2 separate regions of the Homo sapiens genome follow, and region 1 is linked to region 2. The links come from fine-mapping of genetic effects on gene expression. A gene starts in region 2. The other region holds a variant in brackets. All regions are shown on one strand. Distances are from middle to middle.

Region 1 (5,382 bases), 23 kb before region 2:
TGACTTTCTAATTATAATTTCTAGTTCCAAAATAAGTAAAATTGTCATAAAGTATTTATGAAGAAAGTTTTAAGGTGTTTTGTTTTAAAAATTAGTTTTAAGATAATATAGATTGATTATAAAAAATATAACTGATACATAAATCATCTCCTTATCCTCTATTTAACCACATGGCCCCCAATCCCAGTCCTTAGCATGAACCTTTGTAAAGAGTTCAGTGTGTGTCTTCCCAGATATCTACTCTGCACATATATATGTTAAGGATATCTGTAATGTTAAACAAAACCTAAATGGAGTTATACTATATACACTGCTCTGCAATTAACTTTCTTCAATTAACTTAATATGGACATCTTTCTATATAAATATAGATTTATTACAACTGGGTGGGGGTAGTTAACTCCAAGGCTGCATTACAAAATGAACTGAATATTGTTCCAGATAATTTCTCTAAAGACTTTTTTTAAAGACAAAGGAGCTATTAATATTCATTGTAATTTCTAAAAGACTGTTTCTCCAGACTATAATGCTATAGGTACCAAGAAAATAAATCAAAGAGAGGCAGTTTAGCAGAGTAAAACAAGGCACCAGACGGAGACTTAGTCAGCCCTGGGTTTGAATCCTGGCTGGGCTATGGAATGACGGGTTTTTTTGTTTTTGTTTTTTGTTGAGACCTAGTCTTGCCCTGTCACCCAGGCTGGAGTGCATTGACACGATCTTGGCTCACTGCAACCTCCGCCTCCCGGGTTCAAGCGATTCACCTGCCTCAGCCTCCCAAGTAGCTGGGATTACAGGTGTGTGCCACCACGCCCAGCTAATTTTTGTATTTTTAGTAGAGACGGGGTTTCACCATGTTGGCCAGGCTGGTCTTGAACTCCTGACCTCAGGTGTTCCACCTGCCTCAGCCTCCCAAAGTGCTGGGATTACAGGCGTGAGCCTCCACGCCCAGCGTGTGCATTGACTCTCTATGATTCCTTAAACTCTGCAAGCTATGGTTTCCTCATTTGTAAAATAAGTTTAATAACATATATTTTGGGATTGGTTTTAAAAAAGAAAGAAAAGGATAAAGTAGCCACTCTGCAAATGATAGCTACTTTTCATTCAGTCAAAGCAGTGACTTCTTCCAAAGGCAGAACACAAACTCATAACCAGGACAAAGCGGAAAGGGGCGAAAGCACAGAGGGGAGGAAGGAGAGCCTACAGCCGGGGGGATCATCAGGCAGCAGGCATGAGCTTCAACTCTGGGGCGGCAGGAATGCCCAGCACATAGTGGAGACCCAGGCAGCTCTTCTCTTTGGACTCAATTTTCTCAACTGTGAAGCAGCAAGGGGCAAGAGGCCTGTGAAGCTTCCTTTCAGCTTTAAAATCTATGATTCTCAGGAAGTCTCCTAAAGAAAAAACATTTATTGACATTTTGGCTCCTTTAGAACCATTGGACGGTTTATGGGGTGCAAAGTTTTTCACTGCTTGAAAACCGTGGAATGTTTGTCAAAGGAAGTTCCCTCTCCCATCATCATTTTGTATTATTTTTATGACAATTGGCTCCTAAGTTTCCTGCTGGCAAAGACCACCCGCTGAAAAGAGGGAAATACTTGCTACGGTGGCTCAACTAGAGATACTGTGAAATTAGCAAGAAAATGATTTTTTAGGGATGTTCATGCGTAGAAGGCTAAAAGAAAATTAAGTAGTAATCCAAGATCCACTAAAGAAATGCCAGATTAGGCTATACATAGGAGCCTGAACCTTGACTAAAATTCTGAGATCAGTAGTTCTGAGAGAGCTTGGATTTTTCTGTTTTGGTCACCTCTTCCCGTGGCTTAATCTTAAAATGATCCTCCCCACAGAGGAAGTTAATCCTACCTGTGCAAGCCATGTTCTTTCTTGAGTTCCATATTTTAAGTAAAAAAATAAAAAACCTGTAGAAAGATATCTGTATTCTTTACAACTGAATTTTATGAAGTCAGAATTTATCAAATGTTGGAACTTAAAAACGTTAACAATGAGCTGGGCGCAGTGGCTCACGCTGTAATCCCAGCACTTTGGGAGGCCAAGGCAGGTGGATCACTTGAGTTCAGAAATTCAAGACCAGCCTGGGCAATGTAGTCAGACCCTGTCTCTTTAAAAAAAAAAAAAAAAAAAAAAAAAAAATATATATATATATATATATATATATATATATATATAAAACAATGATCACCTTATGCTTAGAGAGGTGTTACCAGTGGAAACAACAACACATTGACAACAACAAAATCAACCTACAGAAGTTACCAGTTCAATCATTTTCTTAAAGAATACTTTCAGAGGACTGCCAAGTTCAAAATGCTGCAATTAGATTAGAGTCCTGTTTCTAGCTACTAACTTGTATATTTTACTTCTTACATACACTGTGTATTCCTCAGAGCTTTCTTAATTAACTATTGACCTACGGATGAACCTGTCTTCATTTTGTTTCCTTAAAGGAGTCTTGTGGATAGAA[T/C]AGGCCAATCCTGCAAAACAGCCCTTCATTCTTGTTTTATCACTGTTAGACCTCCTGGGGAAGGTCACTCCGATCATTAGCTGGCGTTATTGAGTCCTAACTCAGTCAACTTCCTCCTCCTTAAAAAATTCTCCAGGAGGTTCAACAAATAATGGTAGAGACTCTTATGCAATGTGAACAAACTCTCCAAGTACACTTCAGGTTCCCAAGTATAGAAGTCACACAGAGAAGGGAATAAACTTTGACCAGACACAGAGGTCAATAGTGAATTCACAGAGCCTCAGGTAGGGAGACCCAGGATGTGCTAAGTGGCGGGGAGAAATGAATTTGGGATAAAAGACGAACTCAATAATACCTATGTGGATAAATGAGAGCCAATCACATCTCTCTAAAGAGGTCTATACCTATCCATATACATATCGACATGTGTACGTAAAACCAATGTTTGTTTACAATATAGTCAGTTAAGTCTAATTAGAATGTTTAAAAATACACTGAAAGATTCCCTCAACAATCTGATACTTACCTTCTTAATCTTATATTTCTTACATATCACTTTAACTCTTAATTTTTTTTTTTTTTTTTTGTAGAAATGGCATCTTACCATGTTGCCCAGGCTGGTCTTGAACACCTGGCCTCAAGGGACGCTCCCAGCTGAGCCTCGTAAAGCCCTAGGATTACAAATGTGAGCCACCATGCCTAGCACATTTAACTTTTTTTTTTTTTAATTGGGTTTTTTGTTTGACAGGGTCTCGCTGTTTCACCCAGGCTGGAGTGCAGTGGTATAATCAAGGCTTATTGCAGCCTCGAACTTCCAGGCTCAAGTGATCCTCCAACCTCAGCCTCCTAAGTAGCTGTAACTACAGGTGCACACCACCATGCCCAGCTAATTTTTTTTTTTTTTGGTAGAGATGGGGTTTTACCATGTTGCCCAGGGTGATCTCAAACTCCTGGGCTCAAGCCATCTGCCTGTCTTGGTCTCCCAAAGTGCTGGGATTACAGGCATAAGCCATCTTGCCCAGCCTGATTTTAACTCTTAAGTAAACATAAAATATTCTCGCATAAACATCTCGAAAGCTGGTTATCCAGAGAGTACTATGGAATTACTGTGGTATTCACCAGCAAGATTATGATGAAAATTAAGAAAAAAGACAAAGGGGCCTCTGTGGTGGACACAGATCCTCCCCTTACCTCTAGGGAGATACTGGCTTATGGGGGATGCCCCCGATTCGGAAGAGGGACCTTCATGAGGGACCTTCATGAAGGTGAACCCTCAATTTTCAACATCCTTTATTCAATTTCACTCTAAATAACTCAATGAAAGATAATGACCTGGCTAAGAAGCAGCCAGATCTAAGTCTGAAATGCCCTTGTATGTAAATATACTATTGGCCCACATAAGAAGTCTTATTTTTAAACTATTCTCTTTGGCTGCTTGGCTAGTTCTGCTGGTAGAGCATGAGACTCAAAGTATTTTCACATTTATTCTATTTTTCCCATAATATTTTATTTAAAAGAATGTTATTCCCTAGAGCAGTGAAGAAATAATATTTACATGTCTGTTAAGATTTACCACATTGTAGTAACTGCTGACATAATAATATCTTTGTTTTGACTATCCCTTTTTTGTTTCCCTTGACTTCTTGTTTTGTTTTTAGCCAGTTTGATCAGTCTGGGTTTGAAAAAACTTATTAAACATTAGATATTCAAAGTATTAATATTATTAATGATTAATATTATCTAATAATATTTCCATTCTTAATATGGTTCCCCTCTCAGTCCTTCAATATTCATTCTCATCTTTTTACATTGGCCTCATAACTCTTCCCAAAATATGCAAGACACCTGGTGTCTGACACACATATGTTCTCAGCTACCTCTGAATTGAAAGAAGTTTTATCCGTGACACAGAAACTGCATCTCTTTTATTTCCTTAGGCTTCCTGAGTATAATCTTAGTTCCTATTCCTGAAATGGTATATTTTCAGGAATATTTCAGAATTCTCTTTCACAATGAATAGGGAATCAAGAATGATTTCAAAAGCTTTAACCCTTCCCAGCTTTGGTAATGGATTTGAGAGCGTTGTGTAGAGTTTTGGTGAAACTTCACGGCAGTAGTTCTCAACCGGGCTGCCCATGGGAATCACCTGGGAGCTTTCAGAAGTGTGAAAGCAGGGCCACACGCCCAGGCTGTGTGGTCGGAAGTGGTACCTAGGCACTGGGATGTTTGAAATATCCCCAGGTGACTCCAATGTACCGGCGGGTTAAGGACCACTGGATTAGGCGATGAAACAAGAGAGCTGTGTGTTGCTGCCTGGTCTGTTGCAAGCCTGGCTTATGTTGGGATATCTTGGCCTAATACCAAAGCCAAAAAAACAAAATTGTGCTATTCCTGAAGGCTGTCACATTTAAATCCTTTTGAGAACGTTCCCAACAACCATTCTATATGCCTACATAGTATGAAAAATAGTCTTCATCTTTGGTTCACTTAATGATGTTATTAAAAGTCCAGCCCACAGTTATTATTTTTTTAAAGGTGCATCTCTTTCACAAGGTAGTTTATATTAATTAACCTTGCAGGCTCCATTGCAAAGTCTAAGTCAGAACTCATTCATCTCTGGCAATTGAATCACGGAGAATGTTTTAATGTGATTCCTACTGGTGTATGTATGTAGACATCGAAGTGTCTATAGCATTTCCCTTAAGAAGACATTGCTTAGCTACTGAATGTTTCCACAATCTATCTGCCTCCTCTCAGACTTGCTTTCCTTTTTCTTTTGACATGCCTTCTTTTTTCCTGACCCCTACAGACTCACCTACAGCTAGAAAAAAATCTTTCCTCTCCCCTTTGATATTAAAAACCCATCCCTTCTTCTAGCACTTTCAAATAAGATAAGGCACTCC
Region 2 (5,382 bases):
TGTAAATAGTTGTTGTACTGTATGTTTAAGGCACAATAACAAAAAAAAGTCTATACATGTTCAGTACAGTTTTTTTTTAAAAAGAATATTTTCCAGCCATGCTTCTTGTATCCCTGAATGTGGAACCCACAGATAGAGAGGCCCCACTATGTGTATTATTACTGCCCTCATTTTACAAATAAGAAAACTGGGGCACAGGGAGGTTAAATAACTTGAAAAAGGTCACACAACAAATAAATAATAAATCTAGAAATCAAACCTAGCTTGTCATACTCTTGACCATGGGTTTATGTGTCCTACCTAATGGGTTGGTGACTTCTTTTCAAAAGAGGACTGAGATAATCAGATTTTATTTGAGAAAGATCCTTCTGGAGGTCATGTGGATGATTAGAGGAGGAGGTCAGGTGTAGCAGGAAGTAGAAAAAGGATCCAGGGAGAGCAATTAGGAGACTTGCACAAAAATCCAAGCGAGAAGTGATAATTATCTTACCCAAGAAATGTAGGTAGAAACCCAGGAACCCTCCTGGGCCTTGGAATGGCTTGGCCCAGAAGACATCTTGTATTTGACGCTTGGAGAGGATTGGTTTTTAGCATCCCCTCCTATGCTGTGCAACGAAATTAGTTTTAGCAGTAACCATGAAATGGAACAAATGATAACGGCGAGAAAAGAAACCCATTTCTTTCTGTTGAAGTCTTATATGTAATCAGGCCAGCAAAATAAATAAAAAATAAAAGAAAGATTTTTGTATGAAAAGGGCGACAAGAACAATGGATTAGCACTTTTAAGTGACATTAATGTATTTTTGAAAAATGGGAGAAAAAAGTATTTCTACGTATTAGTCCAAAGTGATCATGAGTTCACCAGGCCAATAGGAGAGGGTCCCAGGGAGGGCATCTCAGGAAGAGGGAATGGCACAGGTAAAGGCATGGAGGTGTGAGATGCCTGGAAGAACTGAGCCCTGAGAGTCATTTGGTTTAGCAGATCCAAGAGCCCATGAGTGACAGGCACTGGCAGAAGACAAGAGAAGAGGATGACATTAGAGGGACAGGATAGATTATAAACTAAAGGGTTTTGCACACGAAGAGAAATTTTTCCCTTGGCAAGATAGGTGGCAGTGTGGAGGAGAAACTTGTTAGGATCCTGTCAGGAGAGGCAGAAATACCCCATAAAAGGTAATGGGTCCTAGCAGGGTGCGGTGAGTTACACCTGTAATCCCAGCACTTTGGGAGGCTGGGGCGGGTGGATCACGAGGTCAGGAGTTCGAGACCAGCCTGACCAACATGAAGAAACTCTGTCTCTAATAAAAATACAAAAATTAGCTGGGCGTGGTGGCGCACGCCTGTCATCCCAGCTACTCAGGAGGCTGAGGCAGGAGAATTGCTTGAACCCGGGGGATGGAGGTTGCAGTGAGCTGAGATCGTGCCATTGCACTCCAGCCTGGGTGACAGAGCAAGACTCCGTCTCAAAAAAAAAAAAAAAAAAAAAAAGGTAATGGGTCCCTATACAGAGACAGTGGCAGTTTCAGGATGGAAAGCAGAAAATAGTGTTAAGATGGGTGGCCATTTGGGCACAGGCTTCCCCCAGGGCACCAGGTACTAAATGTGGAGTCAGCCTTCACTAGATTCTGGTTTGCTTGTTTCAAAATGTACTCCAAGAGCCCAAGAGATGTGCCCCACATGAAGTAGGTGCTGCAGCTGGCACTTAATAGTGTCTTGCACAGTGCCTGCTGAGACCAAGTGTGTGCTCTTTGAACAGTAGCTCCAAAAATGACCCTTCGGAAAGGTGGCCATAAGTCCCAGTTTGCTGTGCTTCAGCCAGGGTCTTTGGGAAAATGTATTAATAGGGTTTCCTTTCACTCTTAAAAGCATAATTTTGATGATAAATTATATGTTAGCCTTATCTTTCGGTGTAACCCCTCTTAGGTGGACCCTTGAGGGTTGCTAGCGCTGTCTGTGGAATCTGGAGGGTGGTAAGGATGCAAAGAAATCATGGACCTCATTTCTGCTCAGCCAACTCATCCCTCTAGGTCTCGCTCTGGAAAAAATTCCCCATAATGTCTCTAGAAGAATTACAGTGCATGCAACTTTGAGGAATTAGGGAAAAGAGTATTGGAACGAAACTCTTGAAAACTAAATTCTACCTTCGCTGTGCCCCCAAATTAGCTGTGCAGCCTCGGACAAGTCGCCTATCTCTCTGGGCCTCATGATTCTCATCTATGAATCGAGAGGACGCAACCAGATAGGTTCTGAGATCTCTCCCAGCTTTAAGAAACGACCAAAGGGCCTATTTTTCAGAAGCCAATAATATATGGCAGTTCCTACGGACTCTAACCTTCCCTCGAGAATCACGGTCAACACTAGCTCTGTGCAGAACATGCTGCTCATCCGGTTATTCCTTGCCTGTGCCCTGGGGTGTGACCACCTTCGTAATCTCTTTAAACACCAAAGGCTCTCAAAATTGATCTTATAGCCATATATCTGTATCTATACTCTCTATCGATATAGATAGATATATTTTGATATTTATGCATCCGTCTAGTCCCGGTTAAGACAGCAGTTAAACACCGGCAGAATAAAGTTGCTCCCACCTGTTAACTAGCCTCGACCGACCCTGCTCCAGCCAACTCTTGTCGCCCCCAAGCGTGGGAATCGCGAGACCTCCCAGGCAAAAGGCTTTCTGTCTGTTTGTTTGTTTGTTTGTTTGTTTGTTTATTACCTTGAATTCCTCTTTCCAGCCCTTCTTGGGCGCGCGTACACGTCTCCGGTCTTCAGCAGGTTGGGAAGGTCCACAGCCCATGCTGCGCGCGCGCGCTCCTCCTCCGCGGGCTTGGCTGCTGTGCGCCCCCGCGAGCGCTCCCTGCCGCGCTCCGGCGCCGGTGGTCCCGCGCTCCTGCGCCCTGCGCCCTACGCCCCTGCTACTGCGCTCGGGCGCCACCCGCCTCTCCCACTTCCCGCGCTTAAACCCCGGGCAGGACGCACTGAGTTTCTGGGCAGTCGCCAGGAATGGTTGCCACAATAAATTACGTCATGCAGACCTGGGACCTGGGCGGAGATGGGACTCTTGTAACTGAAAACTAGAAGGTTGGAGGTGTCTAAATCACAGCTAGGATGCAAATGGCAGCCCTATCCAGAGCGAGGGGCCGGGGGAAAGCCCGCTGCCTGGCTGCGTTACTTTGAAAAGTACCAGAGTCGCAAGCATCTTGCGGGAACCTCTTATTTTTCCTCTTTGTAAGACACGGTGTGTGTGACACGCCCCTACCCCTGGTGCCTGGACCACATCCTTGTTTTTAGACACTGTCTGTAGTGAAGGTGATCGTGTGGCATGCGAGGCAGGTGTCCAGTCGCAGAGACGGCTGTTGAGGGCCGGAGGACGGTGTGGAGGCGGCCCCGACAGCACCAGAAGGCAGTGGCACAAAAGCGACCTCAGAAAGACGGTCGCACGAACAGAAACCAACACGATGAAGAAAAGCAGATAGTCAGGACCATAAACAGCTCAGCAGCCGCCAAATGGGTCACGCAAATCATTTTAATGGCAGGTGCATTTTACGAGCTGTTAGGCTGTATGGAAAGAGCATGGCTATGCATATTTCTAGCAGAGAATTAAATCAAGGTGTTATCCGTCCAAAAAGGCAGACCAGGAAGACTGCTCCAATGAGGATCAAGTTTGTCTTTCCCGGATATTTTCTTTTAATCTTAATTTTTATTTTTTTTTAAAGAATTAAAACGAACTAAAAGGAATCTTAGAGGTCTCCTATCAACTCTTTTTTTTTAGTTTTGCAGAAGTTGAGTGACTTTCCCAAGGTCAACGGGAAGCTAGTTAATGAAGGTAGGATGAGGAACTAGGTGGCCTGACTCAGTTTCTCTCTGTCTCCACAATACCAGGAAAGTACAACTGAGGATTCTTAGAGGTGTAAAAATCCTGGGTCCTTCCAAGGAAACTAATGCTCAGCTCTGTGATAGGAAGCTGATTACTTACAGCATTTAAACTCATTTCACTGTTATTGGATATTGCTGTCAATTTTCCTTCTACTAAAATTGAGGAAGAGGAAAGATGAGGAAATGAAACTCAACTCAAAGTATTATAATTATGGAGCAAGAAACATTGAAGATTTATTGAATGAAGAGTTGAAACAAAGCTAAAATGGTGTTGGGGGAACAGCTCTGATAGTATTAACTCATGGGTGTCATAAGACACATGTAATGCCCCAACTGGAAACTGGGGGAAATTCTCGATTAGAATATTCCAACACAAAGGACACCAATAAAATGTTCTTGAGCAAGTTGAATGGATGTTTGTATAACTGTAAGGGTAAGATACTGCACACAACTTTTTTTTTTTCTTTTAAGGCTCTCTGTGAACAGAGATTTGCTGAGAACGAGTAGGTGGTACCCAAGTGTGTTGTGCAGGTGTTGTTTGCAGCATCCTAGGACTACAGTGTGTAAACTAAAATAAAATCCTAAGCCCACCATAGACTGAACAGACCCCTTCTGAGCCAAGGGGACCCAAGAACAACTTAAAAACCAAGTTCCTGGTTATGACGGAATGAGAGGTGAGACATGCCTTTTTTTTTTTTTTATACCGCCTTGGTTTAGACACAACAACTGATCAGCATTAATGTTAAAATAGAGACCAGAAGATTGGCAGAACAGGCGGTGGCTCACGCCTGTAATCCCAGCCCTTCGGGAGGCCAAGGCAGGTGGATCACCTTAGGTCAGGAGTTCAAGACCAACCTGGCCAACCTGGCGAATCACCGTCTCTACTAAAATTACAAAAATTAGCGGGTGTGGTGGCGGGTGTCTGTAATCCCAGATACTTGGGAGGCTGAGGCAGGGAGAATTGCTTGAACCCGGAAGGTGGAGAGTGCAGTGAACCGAGATGGCACCATTGCACTCCAGCCTGGGTGACAGAGCGAGACTCCATCTCAAAAAGAAAAAAAAAAAAAGAAGATTGACAGAACTTTCGTGGCAGTAACATACCAAATTATAAATAGGACCTAAGGCAATGGTTAAGTCATACACCTCTACATTTAAAGAAGAAACTATGTTCTAATCTTGCTATGAAGTTTTTCTTTCTCTTTAGCAGCTAAACAAGCACTGGCCAGAAATAAGCAATATTGAAACAATTACAGCTTATCCAGCTCACAGGCTCTAACTGACCTCCTGCGACACCAGCCCTAACTACAGCTTTGATTGGACAAGAGATCAATTTCAGTAACTTTCTCCTGATAAGAAGACCAGCGACCATGGACTGTTTCTGGCCAGTTGACAGAGGTTATGCACTTGCATGCTTCATGTCCTCAAAAGACCTTTTGATATATAGGACTTACTTGTAATACATTCAAATGTTAAATCACCCCAAAGTGAACATGGGGTGATATGTTA

What was found.
Region 1: its variant is fine-mapped to the expression of STMND1 in nasal epithelium (TOPMed, PIP 0.98).

What each region holds. Positions count from the first base shown.
Region 1 is chr6:17,122,837-17,128,218 of GRCh38, reverse strand. The region is part of intron 3 of STMND1 (stathmin domain containing 1); the gene reads right to left. Among named protein-coding and RNA genes, the nearest start is that of STMND1, 23 kb to the right of the region's middle. The variant T/C (reference allele first, on the strand shown) is at 2,480.
Region 2 is chr6:17,099,673-17,105,054 of GRCh38, reverse strand. It overlaps STMND1 (stathmin domain containing 1), which reads right to left and starts at 3,005. Exons shown (of 5, transcript NM_001190766.2): 1 at 2,717-3,005. The coding sequence starts at 2,797. All of the region lies in intron 1 of LOC101928463 (a long non-coding RNA gene), which reads left to right.